2 separate regions of the Homo sapiens genome follow, and region 1 is linked to region 2. Evidence: fine-mapped expression QTL. A gene starts in region 2. The other region holds a variant in brackets. All regions are shown on one strand. Distances are between the middles of the regions.

Evidence for each region. PIP is the estimated chance that this variant, and not a neighbour inherited with it, causes the effect.
Region 1: its variant is the best candidate, but not a certain one, in a credible set for the expression of PLGRKT in neutrophils (BLUEPRINT, PIP 0.60).

The regions. Positions count from the first base shown.
Region 1 is chr9:5,463,043-5,468,372 of GRCh38, reverse strand. It overlaps CD274 (CD274 molecule), which reads right to left. Exons shown (of 7, transcript NM_014143.4): 4 at 5,252-5,330; 5 at 2,767-2,874; 6 at 1,544-1,603; 7 at 1-533. The coding sequence ends at 511. All of the region lies in intron 2 of INCR1 (interferon stimulated noncoding RNA 1), which reads left to right. Among named protein-coding and RNA genes, the nearest start is that of CD274, 15 kb to the right of the region's middle. The variant G/TG (reference allele first, on the strand shown) is at 3,287.
Region 2 is chr9:5,435,363-5,440,743 of GRCh38, reverse strand. PLGRKT (plasminogen receptor with a C-terminal lysine) reads left to right here and starts at 2,819. Exons shown (of 6, transcript NM_018465.4): 1 at 2,819-2,955; 2 at 4,050-4,175. RefSeq lists enhancers at 1,453-1,612, 3,173-3,262, 2,318-3,517.

The sequences.
Region 1 (5,330 bases), 28 kb before region 2:
CATTCACAACCACACTCACATGACAAGAAGACCTCACAGACTCAAAATAAATAGGAAAAACTCATACATAAATACTGTCCCGTTCCAACACTGAGACTCTCAGTCATGCAGAAAACAAATTGAGGCATTGAGTGGAGGCAAAGGGCACTTCTGCAGGAACTGACCCTCAAATTAGGGATTCTCAACCCGTCTTCCTAGGATGAGCAATGGATGATTTGCTTGGAGGCTCCTTGTTCAGAAGTATCCTTTCTCCCTGTCACAGGCGTCGATGAGCCCCTCAGGCATTTGAAAGTATCAAGGTCTCCCTCCAGGCTCCCTGTTTGACTCCATCTTTCTTCATTCTCCTCCTCTGCTTTCGCCAGGTTCCATTTTCAGTGCTTGGGCCTTTTAAGTCCCACATTGCCTGCATCCCACGGGCCCATTCCTTCCTCTTGTCACGCTCAGCCCCGATGAACCCCTAAACCACAGGTTGAGAATCCCTGCTTGAAGATCAGAAGTTCCAATGCTGGATTACGTCTCCTCCAAATGTGTATCTGGAGAGTGATAATAGTATATTAATTTCATGGGAAGTGGTCTGGGGAAAAAGTAACAAGAAATCTAATAAAAAACATAACTCATAGTTGCTGATATGATAAATGATAAATTTGAAATGAGAGAAAGCAGCAGGTTATATTTGTACCCAATTATCCTTACATGATATCCTGGAAAACCCCTCAGTCCTGAGCAAATTGGGATGGCTTGTCCCCCAGCATGACCCAAACAACATTTGCTACTTAGCTTTACAACACAGATGATGCTATGGGCCACAGAATGAAACTTGCCTGAGCTTGTCCAGGTTAATTAGACTGCTTTAAACTTGGGCTCATTGTTAAGTTTGGTTTCTAACTACATTAAAAAAATTAGAAACCTTAATATAACTTTCTTCTTAGTTCAATAACCTGGATGAGGTTTTTCTGCCCTGCTTATAAATGTAAACATTTGTAGCAAAATGGATTGAAGCAGATGGGTTAAGAGTAAGGGTCTGTGGTTAGGCTAATGGCCCCCAAGCTTGATTTTTGTGATCAGCTGTGTGTTCTTGGGCACTTTACATTATCTTCTTGACCCTCTGTTTTCTCTACTGTAAAATGAGGATAAATTCTAGTATTTCTCTCTCTCTCTCTCTCTCTCTCTTTGGTAATGGCAAGGGGTGGGGGATTAAATGAGATACCGTGCATGGTGCAATTAACATAGTATTACAATACTGACACACAATATTTTAGAATCAATTAATTATCCATCCACCTAAGTCATCCTTGTCCCCTGCTGCAAGGAGCTGCTAGGGTGCAGGGCAACAGAAGATTAGCAAATGAAGCTGACTCCTTCCCCTTCCCTGCTCCTAAACCTCCTCAGACGGTGGAGGAGTTCTTGTGTTAGCTGTGAGGCAAAGGGGAACCAGCATTCTTTAAAAGGAGAGGAGATTATGACTGATGGATTTCTCTTTGTTATTGCTTTAGCTTTTTGTTTCCTTTGACTTTTACTTCCCAATTCCTTCTGATATTCTTACCACTTTGCTTCTTTGAGTTTGTATCTTGGATGCCACATTTTTTCACATCCATCATTCTCCCTTGAGAAAAAGAAATCATTTTTATTTCCATATAGCACAGCTCTACATCCCATACAGTGACCCAAGTTTAAATTTCAAGTTCTGTGAAACATTTGTAATCCCTAGGAAGTCTGGTGGACATCCTTATTCCACAGGTCCCAACTTATGAGGTTAATTAATTCAATAGTGTAGGGCACATGCTTTTGATCCTAGATGTTCTTGAGGAGTATACACTTTTATTTTTCATCTTTTCCCAGAGATGAACCAAATTCTGAGGTATTTTAATATCTATTGATTTCTATCCATTTCTACTGCCAACTAATCTTTTTTTCCAGAGAAATATTCAAAATGCATGCTGGCAACAATTATTTCTTTGTGCAAATCAACTCCATCTCAGGATCTTACTGTCATTGAAACTTGATCCTTATATTCTGGCTATCTCAGTCCTGTTAAGAATATAATTTTTGGAAACAGCTTATCTCTACTCTCTCAGTTAACACTACTTTCCCCCATGTAAGGGGTTATGGGGAATTTTTCAACGACTATTGGAATCCCCTTCCATATTCTACTTCCCTATTTAACATCAGACAACTCTATACCATCACTGGATCTCTTGGTATACTTCTCTAAGTATTGGAGGAATTATTTACTCTGACTCATCTTAAATGGGAGGAAATTATTTGAATATACTCATTTTCCTGGATTTTAATTGTTCCCACAGGTAAATGGAGAAATGAACACATGCAAATTATGTAACATCCTCTACCAAAAATTTTGCAAAATACTCTATGGTAAACATACTACAGTTCTACAGAGGAACTATTTTTATTACTTAGGGTACCCAGAAACCAGCTGGTTGCAACTAATGCAAGACTAAAATGCAACTGAAAATGACGGGCATTTTAGCTCTTTCTCTTCTGTAAGTCTGTGGTTATTTTCATGATAGAAAAAAACTGTATGACACTGCATCTTCTACCTCCATCCATACCCATTCTCCTGCCCCTCACCCCTTACGCTTCATCTTCACCCAGTGATCCCACTCAGCTTCAATATAATTGCTGTTGAACAGTGGAATGCCTTTGCACCACCTTGCAGAGGTTAAGTCGGGTTTCCTTGCAGCCATGATCCAATTCTCACCCCTTCCTCACCCCCAGTGGAGACCACTGCAATTAAGGAAATACTACCTTTTCTTAAACGGAAGATGAATGTCAGTGCTACACCAAGGCATAATAAGATGGCTCCCAGAATTACCAAGTGAGTCCTTTCATTTGGAGGATGTGCCAGAGGTAGTTCTGAAAAACAAAACAAAACGAAAACAAACTGACTAAAGATAAAATTTTGATGGGAAGGGGTCAGGAGAATGGTCATCCTTGAAGTTTAGTTTAGCTTTAGGATAATTTTCTTAAATGCCAAAGTTTGAGTGGCTGGAATGGCGAGATACCTGTGTTAAAATGGGAACAGCATGGAGAAGTGTGAGAAGCCCAGGCTTTGAAAAGGTGGTGCTGGGGCTAAATTCTGCTGCCCTTAACCAGTTTTGAGGTCTTGGGCAAGATACTTAACCAGTGTACAAAATACAAATGCTAATACATTTCTTGTGAGGCTAATATTTATAATGTGCTTGCACAGTACCACATGGAGTGGCTGCTCACTATTAAATGGCGGCCTTGATTATTTCACTTCCTCTTGCTTTTTTTTTTTTTTTTT[G/TG]AGGCAGAGTCTTTCTCTGTTGCCCAGGGTGGAGTGCAGTGGCGCAATCTGGGCTCACTGCAACTTCCGCCTCCCAGGTTCAAGCAATTCTTGTGCCTCAGTCTCCCGAGTAGCTGGGATTACAGGTGCACACCACCACACCCAGCTAATTTTTATATTTTTAGTAAAGGCAGAGTTTCACCATGTTGGCCAGGCTGGTCACAAACTCCTGACCTCAAGTGATCTGCCCACCTTGGCCTCCCAAAGTGCTGAGATTACAGGCATGAGCCTCCGCTCCTGGCCCCTCTTGCATTCTTTAATATAGAAGCTAGTAGCCTACAGTACATGGCAGAGATGGCCCACAGTAGAACATGGAAGGCCAACCAGCACTGCTAAGGAGCTCCCACCTCCTCCTATCTGTCATCATGATTGGAGGCCAATGCTTGTTGTCTTATCTTTCTCTGCAGTTTGAACATCTCTGGACAACAAGCCATTAGTATCTCTTACTAGGCTCCTTGTCTGGGGTACCATGCAGGAGGAAAGGGGGTCCCATGGTACACAGATGTTCAGAGGCTGCTAACTCCCACCTCTCACCCTTAGTCAGCTCCTGCCTGGCTCAGCTCTCCACTGAGACCCATGATCCATCTTTGACTACCCAGGTGAAACTTTAAAGACACAACAACAGCCAGCTTTTTCCGTAACTTACAGTTTACAATGCCTGTTCACGTATGTTTTATTTCAGTTTCAGAACAACTTTATGAGTTAGGCATGCCAGGTATTTAAAAAAAAATCCCCAATTTACAGATGAGGAAACAGACTCAGTGCAGTTAGGTGAGTTACTGTAGGCCACCCAACAAGTAAGTTGTCATAAAACAGCTTGTAAATGGCAGGAACCCACTAATCTAGCTTTTACTGAAAGCCAGTTCAATACCTGAGGACTCGTACCCCAGTAAGAGCATCCCCATCATTTTCTAAAGTTTTTTCCCCCTCTTTCTGTTCACAACACCGTCCTGGATTATCTTTTCCTATTGATTGACTTTTCTATCTAATTTTTCAGTTGTTTTTGCTGAAGTACGTGGCATTTTCCTATCAACATGTATTGGGGGAGGGGGCAGTGAGCAGCTCTTCTCAGAATATCTTTGTGTTTATATTAAATATCATGCTCACTCGCCTCACTTTCTTTCACATTCTGAGCCTCTCATCAGACTCTGTCTCCCACCCTACCTACTTCTGTAGAGTAGTGAGATAAAAAAAAATAGTTGAATTTGTGCAGGCAATGGTCTCAAATCATTTTCATACACTGTTGCTAATCTGACCCTTACAATAAGCTTGCTCAGTAGATTATAATCCTACAGGGAAAGTGAAGCACACAGAAGTCTAGTAATTTGCCCAGGGACACACAGCCTCATGTTCTATGCACTAAGCAGACTGCTAGAGTTGAAATATTGTAGACTACCTTGGGAGAGGCACCGGGGAGAAAGGGTCCCTCATGTTTGGCATAAGATAGAAAAATATGTTCCATTTATTTCCTGCCACCCTGGAAAGAGGGAAGCAGCTCTGATGTGCCAGGATTTGGATTCCTGAAACAAGGCCTGAATTGAGTATTCCTCTCAGGTATTCCCCAGGTTTCCCGGCTATGAAAGCATTTCCCACATGGTGTTGGATTGCCTGTTTTTTGTTTGTTTCTTAGTTTTTTATCTGTTTCCTGAAGAGTGTGAACTGAGTCTTATTATTCTATGTGTATCCAATGAGTACTACAATGCATGGAACAAAAGGTATATTCCATAAATATCTGCTGAATGTTTATTAAGTAACAATATGGTTTGGATGAATGGAGGTGAGGAATTAGGATATATTTTGTAAACATAGTGTTATTCATTCATTCATTTATTCAACAATCACTGAATGACTATGATAGGCAGACATCATGCTAGGTGCTAGGGGACAGTGTTAGACATATTTTAATGGACACATTCAGAATATTACCTGGGATGACCAATTCAGCTGTATGGTTTTCCTCAGGATCTAATCTCCTAAAAGTGCAGTAGAAAATCTCATTAGTTGT
Region 2 (5,381 bases):
ATATTGACCTTGGGCTGCAGTGTTCATCCTTGCAGAATCAGTGTTGGCAAGAATCCTGCTAAGTCAGTTTAGAGAGGATCTTCCCACCCTGAATGTTTGACCACTCTCAATATCTGATCAAATTCCTTACCCCCACCAGCCCCCAGGTGATGTCTGCTTACCCTGGCCTACCTTTAGCAAGAATCCTGTTAGGTCAGTTTAGCAAGGATTTCCCCTACCCTTGCTGTCTCTTCTTAGTAATTTTCCATCCACGGACCCCACCCCCATCCACACAACCTGCTCCTCGGCTATAAATCCCCACTTATCCTTACTGTATTCAGAATTGAGCCCAGTTCTTTACCAAGGTCTCTTTCCCCCTATTTCAAAAGTTGCTGAATAAAAATCTATTTTTACTGCTACAGCTATTGTCCAGCTTTGATTTTCCTTAACAAGCCTCATCAGCTGCCATATTGCCTTGAGGGGATGTCAGTTCAGGCACATTCTCACCCAGAAACTAAATTGTAATATTTATCTCCACCACTACTCTTTATGCAGGGTAATAGGAAAAGAGAGTCAGGGAAGAAGTAATTAACATTTTAAATGGAGAGCTACTATAATTCCTGCCTCTAGAGCTTGTTGCAAGGCTAAAATTAATAATCATAGCTTCCTACTCATTTACTTATGTATGTTTCCCCTGCCCTATGCCAACACCTAGGTAGATCAGGATTTTTTTATCTGGTATGCTTCAACACTTTAATTTCTTCATGATCTGAAATTTCTGCATTACTTCAGTTATCTGATAATCATTATTATGGCACACGGCAGTATTAAGAAGTGCCCAGTGAATCTCCAGGTGTCATGCATAGTTCTTCTTGCCCTCAATATATAGATGTAACCCAATTTCCTTTTGGTATTTGGGATGAATCATACCATTCTGTCACTGTGAGGAATCAAAGTGACCAGAGGGCAGTTTCAGCTTTCGAATCAATGAATTGAAATTCAATTCAATTCAGTGACGGGGTCTTCTAGTGGCAGCATTCCTTCCTTTGGATCTAGGCTTCCAAACACAATAAACCCAAGGTTGTAGAAATGGTGTGCTGGAATACTATGCAGCCATAAAAAATGATGAGTTCATGTCCTTTGTAGGGACGTGGATGAAGCTGGAAACCATCATTCTCAGCAAACTATCGCAAGGACAAAAAACCAAACACCGCATGTTCTCACTCATAGGTGGGAATTGAACAATGAGAACACTTGGACACAGGAAGGGGGACATCACACACCGGGGCCTGTTGTGGGGTGGGGGGAGGGGGGAGGGATAGCATTAGGAGATACACCTAATGTAAATGACAACTTAATGGGTGCAACACACCAACACGGCACATGTATACATAGGTAACAAACCTGCACGTTGTGCACATGTACCCTAGAGCTTAAAGTGTAAAAACAAACAAAAAAAAGAAATGGTGTGCTGGATATTTTCTATTTCTCCCTCCAGGCATTGTGCCTAGTAGGCTGACCTCTACAGACTACACAGACCTAGCTCCACTGTCTTCTGGCTTCCTGGTGGATCCAGCCAGCGGAAGACCCCAGCTGGATATCAGAGCTGGGAGAACAGAGAGGTGGGTCTTCTCCACTCTGTCCCTGCTTTGGGCTGACGTCTCAGCACTGGCTACAACTATAGAATCTCACCTTACTTGGTGAAAAGTTGGCATTGCTTGCTTTCCTCTACTGAACGACACGGTTCCAGTTGGTTACTCTCTCGTACAGCCACAGCTACCGCTCTCGCTCTCGCCTGGTTTTAGTAACTGCTTCCTTCCCCCACCCCTCAGCCCTATAGTTACTAACAGCTCCCCGCTGTTACTGGTTACTACTGGTTACGGAAGGCGAACTATGTGCCCGACACTGTGCTAAATGCCCACATATATTATCTTTTAGTCCTCACAATCCAATAAATTAGATGGCTTTAGTCCTGTTGCAGAGGTGATAAATTCAGAGTGACAGTGACAGAGCTAGAAATTGAAGGTAGGTGTGTTTATGCTAGAGTCTGTGCACTCAAACACGATTCCTTACTTCTTGCATCAGTTGTTAACCTCCCTTCAAGAGTGTCAAACCTCCTGGTAACCCGCCCATTCCCTTAACTGGAAATGAGGGTGCTGTTGCAATTTTCTCATCCAGCCATTCCACAAATGGTATCTGGAATGTGGGACCCACAGTCCAGAATCCTGAGGGCTGCTGTTGAGAGCATCAAGACGCGCCCAGGAGGTCAGGGCGGTGTGCACTCACACGCTGAGCCTGGAGAAAGTTAGACGCCTTCTCCACCGCTGTGGTGGTTAGCAGGGACTTTCCTGAAGGCCAGAGACTGGTGACGTTCATGCTATTTTTCCAAGCCATTTGGTAGCAAAGAACAGAGTGCCAACAATTCAAGCATTCTCTCAGGCTGGGAGAGAGACGTGGCTTATTCAAGATAGAAATTGCTGGTGAGGTTGAGGCGAGACCGACATCTCTCTGAGCAGCAGGGGAGAAAGACGGCTCTGTTCAAAAAAGAATGGGTAATTTCAGTCAATTCTCTTCTTTCTCGTTTCTGTCTTATCTTTATGACTTTTTAATAGTGCCAATTTAACAGATGAGGGGACAGAGGCCTTTAATTGAGAATTCCACTCCGCTTCCTCTGCCTCATCTCAAAAATCTGGCAGCTGAGTCGCCGCGGCTTTGAATTTGCCTCTTTTGACCTTCCCCTCCCACCTCTGGTAACACTGAGCCTGGCCCGGAAGGACACACCCGGCTTCTGGCGGAAGTGCCGGCTCTTTAAAGAAGCTGAGGGCTGCGCGAATTGGCTGAGGTGCGTCATCTACTGTGTCTGGGCGCCAATCCCGACGCTGGGCGGAGCGAGGCCCGGTCCCTGCAGCGGGCGAAAGGAGCCCGGGCCTGGAGGTTTGCGTACCGGTCGCCTGGTCCCGGCACCAGCGCCGCCCAGTGAGTGAACACCGGCCGCAGGCGGGTGGGGAGAAGGGTCAGCCCGGCCATGTCAGTCAGCGCGATCTCCTGGGCTCCGGGCTTGCCAGGCAGCGCTGGGCGCCCGCTCCTCGTGAGCGCCGGCTCTTGGCTCTCGCACTGCCCCTGGTGCTGATAGGTATTGCCAACTTCGTTCCATTAGAGCGCGTTCTTGTCGCCTGGCGTGGACTCCGGATCTCTCCGTAGCTTTAAAATAGAGTTGAGAAAAACAGGCACAGTGCTCTCAACAGAAATCAGCACACTATTGCGGGGAATACCTAAATTACAGTAACTGGCCTCAGGGAGCAAGGGCGGTGTTAATTACAGAAAACCTCCGGAAGCTGTGGGCTCTGGGCTGGAATTTGCAAGGGGATGTGGCTTAATTTCAATGGGATGCAAATATTGAAAATGACTGTGGTGAGACGATCAGTCATACATTCAGGCAATGTGTCATCTGATCGGGAAATAAGTCAGCGTGGTAATCCCGATGACAGAATTCATGCAATTAATTTTTTATGTCCCCCCAAGTAAAATCAAATCTAGGTACTCACGGGTGACCGGAAGAAAGGTTGTCTGGAACTTGCAGGCACCACTTCTCCTCCCCAGAAATACACCTTCCCATAGTAATCTATAGCTCACCTGAGGCAGGGCTGAAGCATTAAAGACCCCTTCCAAGATCTCAGAAGGAATCAAAGGGAAAATGAAGACAGAGGGATTGAAATCAGCATTCTCTGCAAAACATCACTCTGAGACACAGTGATGTTTAAAATTGTATAAGTAGCAAGACATTTTTTTTTACCCCTGGTGAAAAGTGTTAGAATTTTTAAAAGACTTAACTTATACAAGTGAGTGAAATCAAAGTTATCCCTATTGCAAGGTCAATTTTGCTTATTTTCTGATACATATTTTGTGAGCAAGAGGAGATAGCTGAAAGTGTTCTGGACACCCTACGGAATATTCCCAGACTTTGGGAAATGACTTTGCCAGGAATGGGGAAGTTGGGAAAGGAAAGAATGTTGAAAATACTGAACTCCAGGGTGAAATTTACAAGGTGTGATGCATTTATTTATTCTCAGGTGTGGTTTCCCATAAGGAAGCTCTTCTTCCTGCTTGGCTTCCACCTTTAACCCTTCCACCTGGGAGCGTCCTCTAACACATTCAGACTACAAGTCCAGACCCAGGAGAGCAAGGCCCAGAAAGAGGTAAATCTAAATACTAACTTCCCAGACAGTGTTTCTTTCCCAGATGATTGACATGAGGACTCTCTCTTTTCAGGGGAGATCCTAACCCCTTACAAACAGGAGCACTTGAAAGCACACAGCTCTGTGATATACAGGGTATGTGGAGGAATAGTACTAGAGTACAGTTGTTTTCTTTATAAATGTTTGCAGCAGGTGTAAAAATTTAGTCATCCACTCCTATGTTCAGAAGAAAAATAAGTAATGGCAAGTGGCCTGAGCCACAGTTTTTCTTGTATCTCTCATGCTTTGTGCAAATATTTAGGGGAAGTAGACACCATGGAGACTATCAAGATGGATAATATCTCGCTCCTAACCTCAGGCAGGTTCTGGTCTGCTGTTAGAGATGAGTCGCATGGGACTGTTAGGGTTTGGAGAAAGGAAAGAACTGCCAAATCACCCTGCTGTCAGTGAGTGGCCTCTAACTCTGGTCACAGGGTGCTCGAGTGGCACAGTGGCAGAAGGGGAGGGAAATCTCACCACCTCAGGCCTTTTCAGCATTGTGCCTCTTCATCCTGGTAAGTGGTTTGGTATCCTGTGCTCAGCTTTGAAGCTGACTCTGGCACAGAGCCCTGAAACTCCAGGTGTATCCTTGATCAGAATACAAGGAAGTCACTGAAGTCTTGCTTGCAGCTCCCACTCACCTGGAACCCCATTAGCTGGGCTTCCCACAGAATACTTGGGAATCCTGGCTGTAATGAATTAAGACTGGCCATTCTTACCTGAGGTTCACAACCCTACTCAACAGCCTATTAAAGAGAAAAGGTATCAGCAACATTGTTGAGAAGGGTAGAGCAGTTGTAACTTTCCCCTGAGTTTTGCAGTATTCTGAAATGCAACCAACTAACTCAAGGTCTTCTGTACCCACCCAGTTGGATTAAGAATAAAAATTGGAGTTCTGTCCCTTGTAGAGTTGACAGCCCACTTAAAAACTTACATAAGATAGACACTACTGTGCATTCATCTAAAAAGTACATTTTCCAGGACATTCAAGTATCTGTATGTTTTTCCATTTTTGAGAACTTTAGTACATGCTATCTTGGAGAGAATGAGAGTGAAGCTGGAGGAGGATGGCTAAGGCAGTTAGCAGTGGGTGGATGGAAATAAGGGGCATGTAGGAGAGGGACAGGGATTGTGGTGGGATGACAGGAAGAATAACTGGTCTACTGA